Linked DNA regions of Homo sapiens. The protein of the gene in region 1 interacts with the protein of each later gene in a pairwise test. Each region holds a gene or a part of one and is shown in the gene's direction. Other genes may lie near its edges. The genes, in order: PRMT2, SHTN1 and DAZAP1.

What was found.
Region 2: the proteins of PRMT2 (region 1) and SHTN1 interact in a two-hybrid assay, tested with the Homo sapiens proteins (one large-scale study listed by BioGRID and IntAct).
Region 3: the proteins of PRMT2 (region 1) and DAZAP1 interact in a two-hybrid assay, tested with the Homo sapiens proteins (one large-scale study listed by BioGRID and IntAct).

What each region holds. Positions count from the first base shown.
Region 1 is NC_000021.9:46,642,043-46,645,694, forward strand, and holds part of PRMT2 (protein arginine N-methyltransferase 2), read left to right. Parts: intron 1-1,492; coding exon 1,493-1,597; intron 1,598-2,263; coding exon 2,264-2,446; intron 2,447-3,652. UniProt on the Homo sapiens protein: Arginine methyltransferase that methylates the guanidino nitrogens of arginyl residues in proteins such as STAT3, FBL, histone H4. Acts as a coactivator (with NCOA2) of the androgen receptor (AR)-mediated transactivation.
Region 2 is NC_000010.11:116,928,678-116,932,329, reverse strand, and holds part of SHTN1 (shootin-1), read left to right. Parts: intron 1-2,327; coding exon 2,328-2,481; intron 2,482-3,652. UniProt on the Homo sapiens protein: Involved in the generation of internal asymmetric signals required for neuronal polarization and neurite outgrowth.
Region 3 is NC_000019.10:1,424,443-1,428,094, forward strand, and holds part of DAZAP1 (DAZ-associated protein 1), read left to right. Parts: intron 1-1,435; coding exon 1,436-1,518; coding exon of another isoform or gene 1,519-1,519; intron 1,520-3,652. UniProt on the Homo sapiens protein: RNA-binding protein, which may be required during spermatogenesis.

The sequences.
Region 1 (3,652 bases):
GAGACTAAAGTGATTGGTATCTATTGAGTGAGAGTGTGGGAAGATTGGTGGTTCCCTCTCAGCAAGCGGTCCAGGGAACACCTTTCTGGAGAGCACTGGGTGGTAAAACCAAAAGCCACATAGTCTCAGTCCATCAGGTTCACATTCAGAGACTTACCCTAAGAAGATTAAGGTACATACAGAATGATTTATGTTGAAAGAAGTTCATCTTAACATGATTTAGAATAGTAAAAACTGAAAAGTCTAAATGTACAAGACTAGGAAACTGGATAGGTAAGTCCTGATAATTCATAGACTGGATATTAAATAGTGTTAGAAGTATATTTAATAAGAAAAATGTTCAGAGTTTATAAAGTGAAAACCATAGGCCACAGGCTTATTGTGTGAACCCAGTGAATGCTTTGTACTTATGTTACGTGTCCACTTTTTTAAAAGTCTGAAAGTATAAACACCAATGTGCTGTCTGTTATTATCTGTGATCAGTGAGCAAAATTACAGGAGGTTTTAATTTTCTTCTGTGTACTTGGTGTTTTCACACATTTTCTAAAGTAAACACGAATTACTTTTATGTTTAGGAAAATGTGTTTAAAATGTATGTATTGAGACAAGGTTGATTCATTGAACTGGAGTGTGTGATCTGAGGTTCTGCCCCCTGCAGTGATGTCTTCCAGGCAAGCTTATTCTTATATAAAGTGAACGGCCAGGCATGGTGGCTCATGCCTGTAGTCCTAGCACTTTGGGAGGATGAGGCAGGTGGATTGCCTGAGCTGAGGATTTCGAGGCCAACCTGGGCAACATGGTGAAACCCCATCTCTACTAAAAATACAAAAAATTAGCTGGGTGTAGTGGTGCACACCTGTTGTCCCAGCTACTTGGGAGGCTGAGGCATCAGAATCACTTGAACCTGGGAGGCGGCAGAGGTTGCCCTGAGCCGAGATCATGCCATTGCCCTCCAGCCTGGGCAACAGAGCAAGACTCTGTCTCAAAAAAAAAAAAAAAAAAAAAATGGAGGGGTTGGGGGAGGCTCCAAGGACCTGTGTGGGTCCAAGCTGGGCTCTGCTGCCTCGTGGAGGTTTGTGCCATGCCATCAGCTCTTTCCACAGGCCCCTGGCTGTGCCTGCCTGGGGCGCTGGGCCCCTGGCTCTGTCCTCACACTGGTTTCTCTTCATGGGGTTGATGATCACCTTCAGGAAGCAAAGCTGATGAAGGACAAGGGCTCCTCACCAAATAGACACTAGTGGTGCCTGTTTCTGACTTCTTGCTTTGATGTTCTCTTTTAGGGTCCAGATAATTTTTTTTTTTAGAAAAGAAATGTAGAGTGAAGGTGACAGCCTTTGATTATAGTAGTAAAGATGATCCAAATAGTTTGTATAATAAATACTTGGACACATGAATCTGTATTTGAAATTTGAAACCATCCTAATAATATAGCCAAAAAAAAAAAAAAAAAGCTCCAGCGTCCTCTCCTCACGCTTTCCTTGGCTTTGAGCAGGGAGAAGAGCCTGCTGAGTGCAGTGAGGCCGGTCTCCTGCAGGAGGGAGTACAGCCAGAGGAGTTTGTGGCCATCGCGGACTACGCTGCCACCGATGAGACCCAGGTAGCCACACGTGGTGGTTAATGCTTTATGGCTTTCAGCATGTTCAGTGTCAAAAGGAGATAAATTTTGCAGACGTCACACCAAAGTTAAATGAAGAGGTATTCAGATGCGTAGGGCCACACAAGACCTGTGTGTGAAGCTCACAGCCCAGCCAGTTCTGCCTCAAGCATGATGTAAAGATACGAGGCATGGAGTGGGGACCCTCAGCCAGGGGCAGAAGCACCTGTTCTGGTTTCTACTTGGAATGTAGAACCCACCCAGTTAATGAAAAGTAAGGCTACCAAATATATCAAGCTATATCTGCTTGGACATAGCTTTGTTTACTTTGTGACAGGAATTTCTTAGAGTCAGCCTCCAGTAACTCAGTTGGCATAGTTGAGTTACAATGAAGAGGCTGTTGAGAAATTCTCTCCTAAGCCATTTGAAAATGTTTACTCCTTCTTTTAAAAAATATCTGTTAAGCTGTGCCCTCCTTTCAGGTAGATGTTCCAGAGGCATCGCTAAGTCATGGTGTCACTTGCAAACATTCTCAGTTGCTGTCATTACCCACTGACTCCTGTTTGAAATCTCTGTGATTTTGTCACCATTGATGGGATTTATCACTGAGCCACATTTGAAATACCAATGACTGGTTTTCTTATTGAATTTTAACTTTTTTTTTTCCAGCTCAGTTTTTTGAGAGGAGAAAAAATTCTTATCCTGAGACAAACCACTGCAGATTGGTGGTGGGGTGAGCGTGCGGGCTGCTGTGGGTACATTCCGGCAAACCATGTGGGGAAGCACGTGGATGAGTACGACCCCGAGGACACGTGGCAGGATGAAGAGTACTTCGGCAGCTATGGAACTCTGGTATTGCTTTCTAAATTCCCTGTTCAGCTGGCCAGGCGGTGGGTTCTCTCTAGCTTTAGTTCTACTGCAACGTTCAGAGCAGGCCCATAGTCTTACAGGCCAGAGCTCCTCTGTTGTAGCCACTCAGCTCTGACATGGTTGTGTGGAAGCCACTGTGGATGACACACAAAGTGTGCACTGTTGTGTTCCAATAAAACTTTATTTATGGATCTTGAAATTTGAATTTATACTGTACAGTTTTCATGTGTCACAAAGTATTTTCTTTTGATTTAAAAAAATCATTTAAAAATGTAAAACCCACTGTTAGTTTGGAGGCCATCCAAAAACAGGTGGTGGGCTAGATTTGGCCCATGGCTTAGTTTGCCGACCCCTGGCTTAGAGATATGATTTGAGCAATGAGATTATGTGCGTGCTCCCTCAGTATTTAAAAAAAAAGCAGTAAATTTTACTTTAAAAATGAAATTAGGCTGAGTGTGGTGGCTGACACCTGTAATCCCTACACTTTGGGAGGCCAAGGCAAGAGGACACTTGGCTTGAGACCAAGTGTTCAAGACCAGCCTGACAACATAGTGAGAAAAAATAAAAAATATAATTCGTCTCTACAAAAAAAAAATTAAAAAAAAATATAATTAGCTGGGCATGGTGGTGCACGCCTGTAGTCCCAGCTACTCGAGAGGCTGAAGTGGGAGGATTGCTCAAGCCTTGGAGGCCAAGGCTGCAGTGAGCCATGATGGCGCTGTTGCACTTCAGCCTGGGCTACAGAGCGAGAGCCTGTCTCAAAAAAAAAAAAAATAGAAAAAATTCTATAAATCTATGAATAATACTACTTAGGTCAGGTGTGGTGGCTCATGCCTGTAATCACAGGACTTTGGGAAGCTGAGGTCAGAGCATCACTTGAAGCCAGGAGTTCAAGTCTGTGGTGAGCTATGATTGCGCTACTGCACTCCAGCCTGGGTGATTGAACCAGACTCTGTCCCTAAAAAAATAATAAAAGCCCAGCTTCTAAATAGCTTACCGAAATTTTTTCCCCACCATGGAGAAATGCCTATAACCCGATGGTCCAGGCAACAATCTCTGGTTACATTTTAAAACTAGATGAAAACAGTTACTTGCAGGATGAATGTTATAAAAATGATGTTAGTTGAAAGAAGGAATAGGGCAAAGAATCTATAACGTTTGACTCAATTATATAAAGTTAAGAGGCCA
Region 2 (3,652 bases), on another chromosome or scaffold:
CTGATCTGACGAGGTGGAGCTCAGGCGGTAATGCTTGCTCGTGCCTGCTGCTAACCTTCTGTGCAGCCTGGTTCCTAACAGGCCATGGACCAGTACCAGTCCAAGACCTGGGGGTTGGGGAACCCTGCTCTAGAGTATCAGTTATTTACTCGCATGATCATGTGACTGATTGGGAGCTGTGGCTGGCTGCCGCTGCAGAGGATTGTTGAGAGAGTATCTTATTACATATTGCGAGCCTGGGAAAAGATCAAAATCCAGAATTTGAAGTATGGTTTGTATTGAATGCATGTCGCTTTCACACCATTGTAAAGTCGAAAAACTATCTCAAACCATCCTAAATTGGGGACCATCTGTATGTCGCTTAAAATGTTTCTTAGCTGTCTGTAAGTTCCCTTGCAGATGCAGCAGTCTTTTAAGCACAGCATATGGTTTTTGCAATTATAAAAATAGCATATGCTCCTTATAATACATTTTTAAAATACAGCAAAAGTTAAAGAAGATTAACCAAGTATCCCATATTTTGGTGCATAGCTGAACTTTCTGTAAATATATACCTTTATAAATATAGTTTGTTTAAATTGAATCATACTATGCATACTATTTTATGCCTTGATTTTTTTTCCATTGGTAATATATCTTCTCATGTCAGTATATAGTAAGCTATGTGATTTAAAAGTTGCATAGTATTTCATTGAATAAACATGCTATAATTTATTAAACTAAAAATATTGGTGGACATTTAGGTTATTTGCAACTTTTTGCTGTTGTAAAGAATACTTCAGGCCAGGTGTGGTGGCTCACGCCTGTAATCTCAGCACCTTGGGAGGCCAAAGCAGGTGGATCACTTAAGGCCAGGAGTTCGAAACCAGCCTGGCCAATGTGGTGAAACCCTGTCTCTACTAAAAATACAAAAATTAGCCGGGTGTGGTGACATGTGCCTGTAGCCCCAGCTACTCAGGAGGCTGAAGCACAAGAATTGTTTGAACCCAGGAGGCGAAGTTTGCAGTGAGCCCAGATCGCGCCACTGCACTCCAGCCTGGCCGAAAGAGTGAGACTCTATCTCAGAACAAAAACAAAAACAAAAACGAAACAAAACAAAAAACCACTTCAGTGAATATATTTCAGAGTATTTTAAAAAATAATTTCTAAAAATGGTTTTACTGAATCGAAAGCCTTTCCTTTTTTTTTTTTTTTGAAGACTTTTGATACTTATTACTAAATTTGTGTCCCCCAGGAGTCTTTTAAAATATTACCTGAATTTTTCTTTTGAAAATGGGTACAAAAGTGACCCATGTTTAAAAATTAAAGTGTCTGTGTGACTAACAAGCATATAAAAAATGCTTAACATCACTAATCATTAGAGAAATGAAAATCAAAACCACAATGAGATACCATCTCATGTCAGTCAGAATAGCTGTTACTAAAAAGTCAAAAAATAGCAGATGTTGGCAAGGTTTCAGAGAAATGGGACGCTTAAACACTGCTGGTGGGAATGTAAGTTAGTTCAGCCATTATGGAAGGCAGTGTGGCGATTTCTCAAAGAACTTAACACAGAAATACCATTCAACCCAACAGTCCCATTATTGGATATATGCCCAAAGGAATATAAATCATTCTACCATAAAGACACGTGCACACATATTCATCGCAGCACTATATGCAACAGCAAAGTCATGGAGTCAACCTCAATGCCCATCCGTGGTAGACTGGATAAAGAAAATCTGGTACATATTACACCATGGAATACGGTGTAGCCATAAAAAGGAATGAGATAATGTCCTTTGTAGCAACATGAATGGAACTGGAGGCCATAATCCTAAGTGAACTAACATGGGAATAGAAAACCAAATGTTCTCACTTCTAAGTGGGAGCTAAGCATTGATTACACACGGACACAAAGAAGGGAACAACAGACACTGGGGCTTACTTGATGATGGAGGGTGGGAGGAGAGAGAGGATCGAAAAAGTATCTATCAGGTACTATTCTTTTTACCTTGGTGATGAAACAACCTGTACACCAAGCCCCTGTGACACACAATTTACCTATATAACAACCATGCACATGTACCCCGAACCTAAAATAAAACTTAAAAAAAATTAAAGTGTCTGGTACGTAACTCCCCAGTAAATTTATTTTAAATCAGCTCTTTAGCTGATTTATGATTGTGTGTTAATTGTATCTAGCATTTGCATGGTTGTTAAGATGGATTGGAATCTGTTTGCTATGAAGTACAGTCAAAGGGAAATATTTATTTTTTCCCTTTCTTTTCTTTGACAAAGGAAAAACTGTCAGCCATAAAAGTCTTTTTTTTTTAAATAACTTATAGGTCAAAGAATTAGAAGAGCAACTAGAAAATGAAACACTCCACAAAGAAATACACAACCTCAAACAGCAACTGGAGCTTCTAGAGGAAGATAAAAAGGAATTGGAATTGAAATATCAGAATTCTGAAGAGAAAGCCAGAAATTTAAAGCACTCTGGTAAAAGCATTGAGTAGGCTACTATGTCTTACTATTAATCTTTGAATTACTCATGCCTAGTACAAAACCTGGCATATAGTTAGTCTAGAACATTTACTGAATGCTGTGGAAAAATACCAAGATTTGTTTTGAAATTCCTTAATTTCTAACCATTGCAATTCAGTAGAATAGCTGCTGTATTAAATAATTCAAAAATATTTAGACTAATTTTTTGGACTTAGAGCCCTTGTGAACATCATATACAGAATTTAGACACAGAGATACCGTTAGCCTAGGAAGACCAACTTTTCAGCATTTTTCAGAGCTTCAGAGATGAATGTTCATTATGTACTTTATTTTGTTCACTTAGAGTGCATTTTTAGAAAGAATTAAACTTTTTAAAAATACTGTCTTCATCTTTGGTGTTCATACTACCTTCATCTTTGGTGTCTAATAATACACATGAAATAATACTTTCTATATTGTACCTAACAATGAACTGGGCAACAATATATCTATTAAATGGAAAATCTTTAGAAACACCAGGGGATACTTAAATCAAAAGATTTATTCATTCAGTTCTAGAAGGCTTAACGGGAATGTGCGAGTTAGATTACTATACGGGCATATGTGTAAGTCTCTGTTGGAAGGTCGGTAATTTAAGAAGTCAGGTACATTCCCTTTATAATAGCTTCAATATTCACTTCAGATATTTTTGGTTAATTTTATACTAGAATTTTGAAACCTATGCAGAAGAACCATGTAGGCCTTTTTTCCTTCTAAAAGCATTCAGTGCTTTCTAATCCACAATGAAAATTGATTATAATTTATTTTTTAATTGATCCAAAATTAAGAAGTATTTCATTCTTTTTAGTGAATATCAGAGTAGCCTGTAGCCAAAGCCATCTTTATTATGAATAGAGGAGGCAGACACTGGAAATATATAAGGTTCAAATCTGAATGCCTTCTATTAATACTTATTATCTGCTGTGTGTGTACCCAGCCCTATCCTAGGAAACAATAAGAAATACAGAAGAAAAGAAACCATGCTTTTTGTCTTCAGAGAACTCAGATTCCCCTTGGAGGGATAGGTGCATGCACATAAAAAGACTAGAGGATTCTCAGTTTTGGAGAGCATAGCCCACACTGCCTATTTAAGTGTTGAGGGTAAATACAAATGGACAGATCCCTG
Region 3 (3,652 bases), on another chromosome or scaffold:
TCCTGAACCACAGTGACCTTTGTCCCCTCACAGTCTGAGCTGCCCTTTCTGCCCCGTTTCCATCTTTCCCCGCCCCCAGTTTTGCTTGTCCTGTTTCTGCCTGGTCCCAGCTACAGCAGCCCTGGCCCCTGTCTCTTCAGCTTGAGAGGCCCCACAGTAGGCTGCTCCTTCCGGGGGCCGTTGCCTGTTCCCACCCCCCACGGCCCTTCTCTGCCGCGCTCGTTCACGCCTCACGCCCGTGCTGCGCTGTCCCCTGCTGTGTGGTGCCTTGTCACGCACCCTGTGCCTCTGGCGCGGGCAGCCCATCTTCAGCCCGGTCTCAGCTCTTCCCATGTCCATCTTTGTTCTGTGAGGTCTTGGGCAGCTGTCTGCCGGGCACTTCCATCTGGGGAGGGGCTGGTGCCGCCTGGGCCCCGCCTCGGGAGGACGGTGTGCTTTGCGGTGTCACGCTCCACCTAGCCGGGGAGGCCTGGAGAGCCCGGCGCACTCCTGCGCCTAGAGGAGGAGACCCGCCCCGTTAGCCGGGGGCCGCGCCCACCCCAGACCCACTAAACTTCGTTTATACTGCCACTCTTGTGTTTGGGAAATGCTAAATTTTTTTTGCCTTTAAAATTTTCTGTTTTGATCCCATGGTGCATCTCGCTCTTGCTGCTGGCAGCAGAGTCTGACCTGCTGGAACCCGTTGTGGCCTGTATCTTTGTGCATTGTTTCTCTACCTGTATAGAACATGCATAGATGTCTACGATATGACCTCTTCTAGGACTCCTTGGGCTTACCCAACGGTGTTGCGTAAGCCTAGCGAGGCACCAGCTATGATAGATACTGTATCTGTTAACGCTTTAGAACGATATATGGCTGCTGTCAGCACTAGCTGCAAAGCAAATTGCAAGCCAAGGGGGAGAATCCTGGGTTTCAGAGAAGCATACACACATCCACGGTGCACACCCCTGACTAAGATGGCGCATTCCACGCGGGCCCCCGGCCTGCAGGGTTCACTGGCAATCTCCCCACAGGCGAGAGCCAGAATATTCAAGCACGGGCCTCTGACCCTCCCCTGGGGGGCGCTTTGTCTGCCAGTAGCGATGGAGGCCCTCACCGTTCCCCTGTCTCCGCTGCTGTTTTATAAGATGTGCTCCTTGTTCCAAATCTTTGTGACACGGAGCCCCAGCCCGGGGTGTCTGGGGCGGAGGCTTGACTCAGGCCTCAGTCAGCAGAGCCGTCACCGGGAGTGCGGACGTCACCGTCTGTCCACTCCGTGTGCAGTCGAGTGGTGGCTCCTGGGGAGGGAGGCAGCTGCCCCAGGGGCCCGCAGCGCCCCACACACAGCTTAGCTGAAACCCAAGGTCGATCCCTCGGCCCGTCCCTAATACTGTTCATCATCCTGTTTTGTGTCACAACACCCTGCTACCTTGATTCACTCTTCGTCGTTGGCTAGGTTTTGGATTTATTACTTTCGAGGACGAACAATCAGTGGACCAGGCTGTCAACATGCATTTTCACGACATCATGGGCAAAAAAGTGTGTAGTTGTAGTTTTATTTTACCTTAAGACCAAACCAAGTCTTAGGCAACTTAGGGGTTTCACTGGAAAGGAACATTCCTTCACGGAAAGGGTCGGGCGAGTTCGTCCTGTGAACCTTTGCTGCGTGAGGTGGGCCTGGGTCTGTAGACGTGAGGAGGGTCCCATCCTTCCCCAGCACCCTTCCTGCGGGGTGGGGATCTCTCAGCTTTGCTCCTGGAGCCCCTCCCTCTGGGTGACCTGGGACTGGGCGGGTAGGGGGCTGGGGCTGGGAGGCTGTGGCGGTGTTGGGGCTGGCTCCAGTGAAACCGCAGCGTTGCCTCAGGCTTGGTTTCCACGACCACTCCTTCAGATGTCTGCAAATCCCCATTGTCTGACACTGACCTGTAATGTGATCAGCAAGGGACCTTTGAGAGCCGAGGTTCCGCTTAAAATGGAAAGCACAGTGGAAACATCATGAAGGACTGGTTGTTTGAATTGGGTCACTTACTGTGGAACTCCGGCACCAGCCACATGCTCTCGGTAGTACTCAGCCACCATGCAGTCAAGTGACCTCTGGTTGTGTCATCTTCATACTGTGTTACCCCCGGAGGTGAGAGGGACAGGAGGCCACCCCCCCAACCCCCAGGCCAGCCCTTGGAAGGCATGTGTCAGAAAGGGGTCCCTAAATCCTTGTTTTACCTGGACCCTTGGAGGTTCTTGAGAAGTGGACTCTGAAATAAATAACTGGTAGAAATTCTACAGTGTGGAATTTCTTGCAGTTAGCAAAAGCTTAGGGGTCCAGGTTTTTGCAGGATTCCTGTCTTGGTCCTTTCAAACCAAGGAGCTCTGCTGGCTCTGCCAGGCCGCCTCACATGCCCAGTGGGATTCTGACCCGGCCTCCTTGGTGCGGCAGCTTCTCCCGTTAACGGAAGAAGACGCTTAGCCCCTCTGACAGGGCCATGGTTGTTTTTTCAATTAAAATGTCCTGGAGGGAGCATCGTGCTCATTATCTCCTGCCCCTGCCCTCTACCCCAGCCAGAGGTCTTGATAGCAGAACTTTTTTAAAAACAGTAGCATGTGTAGTTATTTTTGTATACACGTGGCTTAGATTGGGTTGCAGACTTCATTAATTCCATTTGAACCCAACTAAAACAGGAGACACAATCCTTGTTCTGACATCGAGTGCAGCTTGTGGTTTAAAATGAGCCTGCCGGCTGCATGGGTGCGCGACAGTACAAGCAGGGCTTCAAGGAGTCTGCGCCCAGTGTTTTAAGGGACTACGACACTGACAATTTGGGGAAAGCGTGGTCTTGATATACGGGGCAGAAAGAGCTCTGTACAGTGCACACACCTGCTGCCGTCCCTGGGCAGCCCCTGGGTCCCCCCAGCCATGACTGTTCTGCGCGAGCTCCTGAGCTGGGCGACCTCAGTGTGGGTCTCGCCTTCCAAGCCAGACAGTCGTTGGAGTCCAGCTTGCCCGGCGCCGGCCTTCACTGGTTGGCTGGAGCGGCACTTGGCGTCGCCGCCGGCCCCTCATGGGGGTTTTCCGTTTGTGGAGTGTTTGGTACCGCGTGGTAGTTAACCCTCCATGCCAGGCGACTGCATTGCTGCATTCAGGTAGGAAAGGGTGAAAGAATTTTTTTTTGTTTTTGTTTTTTTAAAGTACAAGGACCGCTCTGCTTTGTAAGCAGGAACCGCAGTCCCCTGAGGAGGGTGTGTGAAGACTCGCTCATTTGAGTTCTTTGAAATGGGTCCCTTGGTCCTGCTGTCACATTGCCTTGAGCTAACGGATCCTGTTCCCATCATAGGCCGGTCCTTGGGGCATTGGGCAGGTGGGGGCTTTGTGCCTCTGTGGCTGCTGCTGTCTGTTCTCTAACAGGCAGAACTGAGGGATTCTGAACTCAGGATGTGCAGCTCTCCAGACTGAGACCCCAAGGCTGACTCCAGGTGGATCCATTGTCTCTTTATTCTCATTACGATTTATCAGAAAAGTGAGACAAATTCAGGATTCTCAAATGCTGAGGCAGCCCCGGAATTGGGGGGATCTTTCTGTTGTTAGTCCACCCATATTTTCAAGCAGGCATTAAAGGAAGGTCAGCCACTGCGCCTAGAATAAGTAGGTCAGGCCTGCTCCATCCATTGTCCCCGGCCC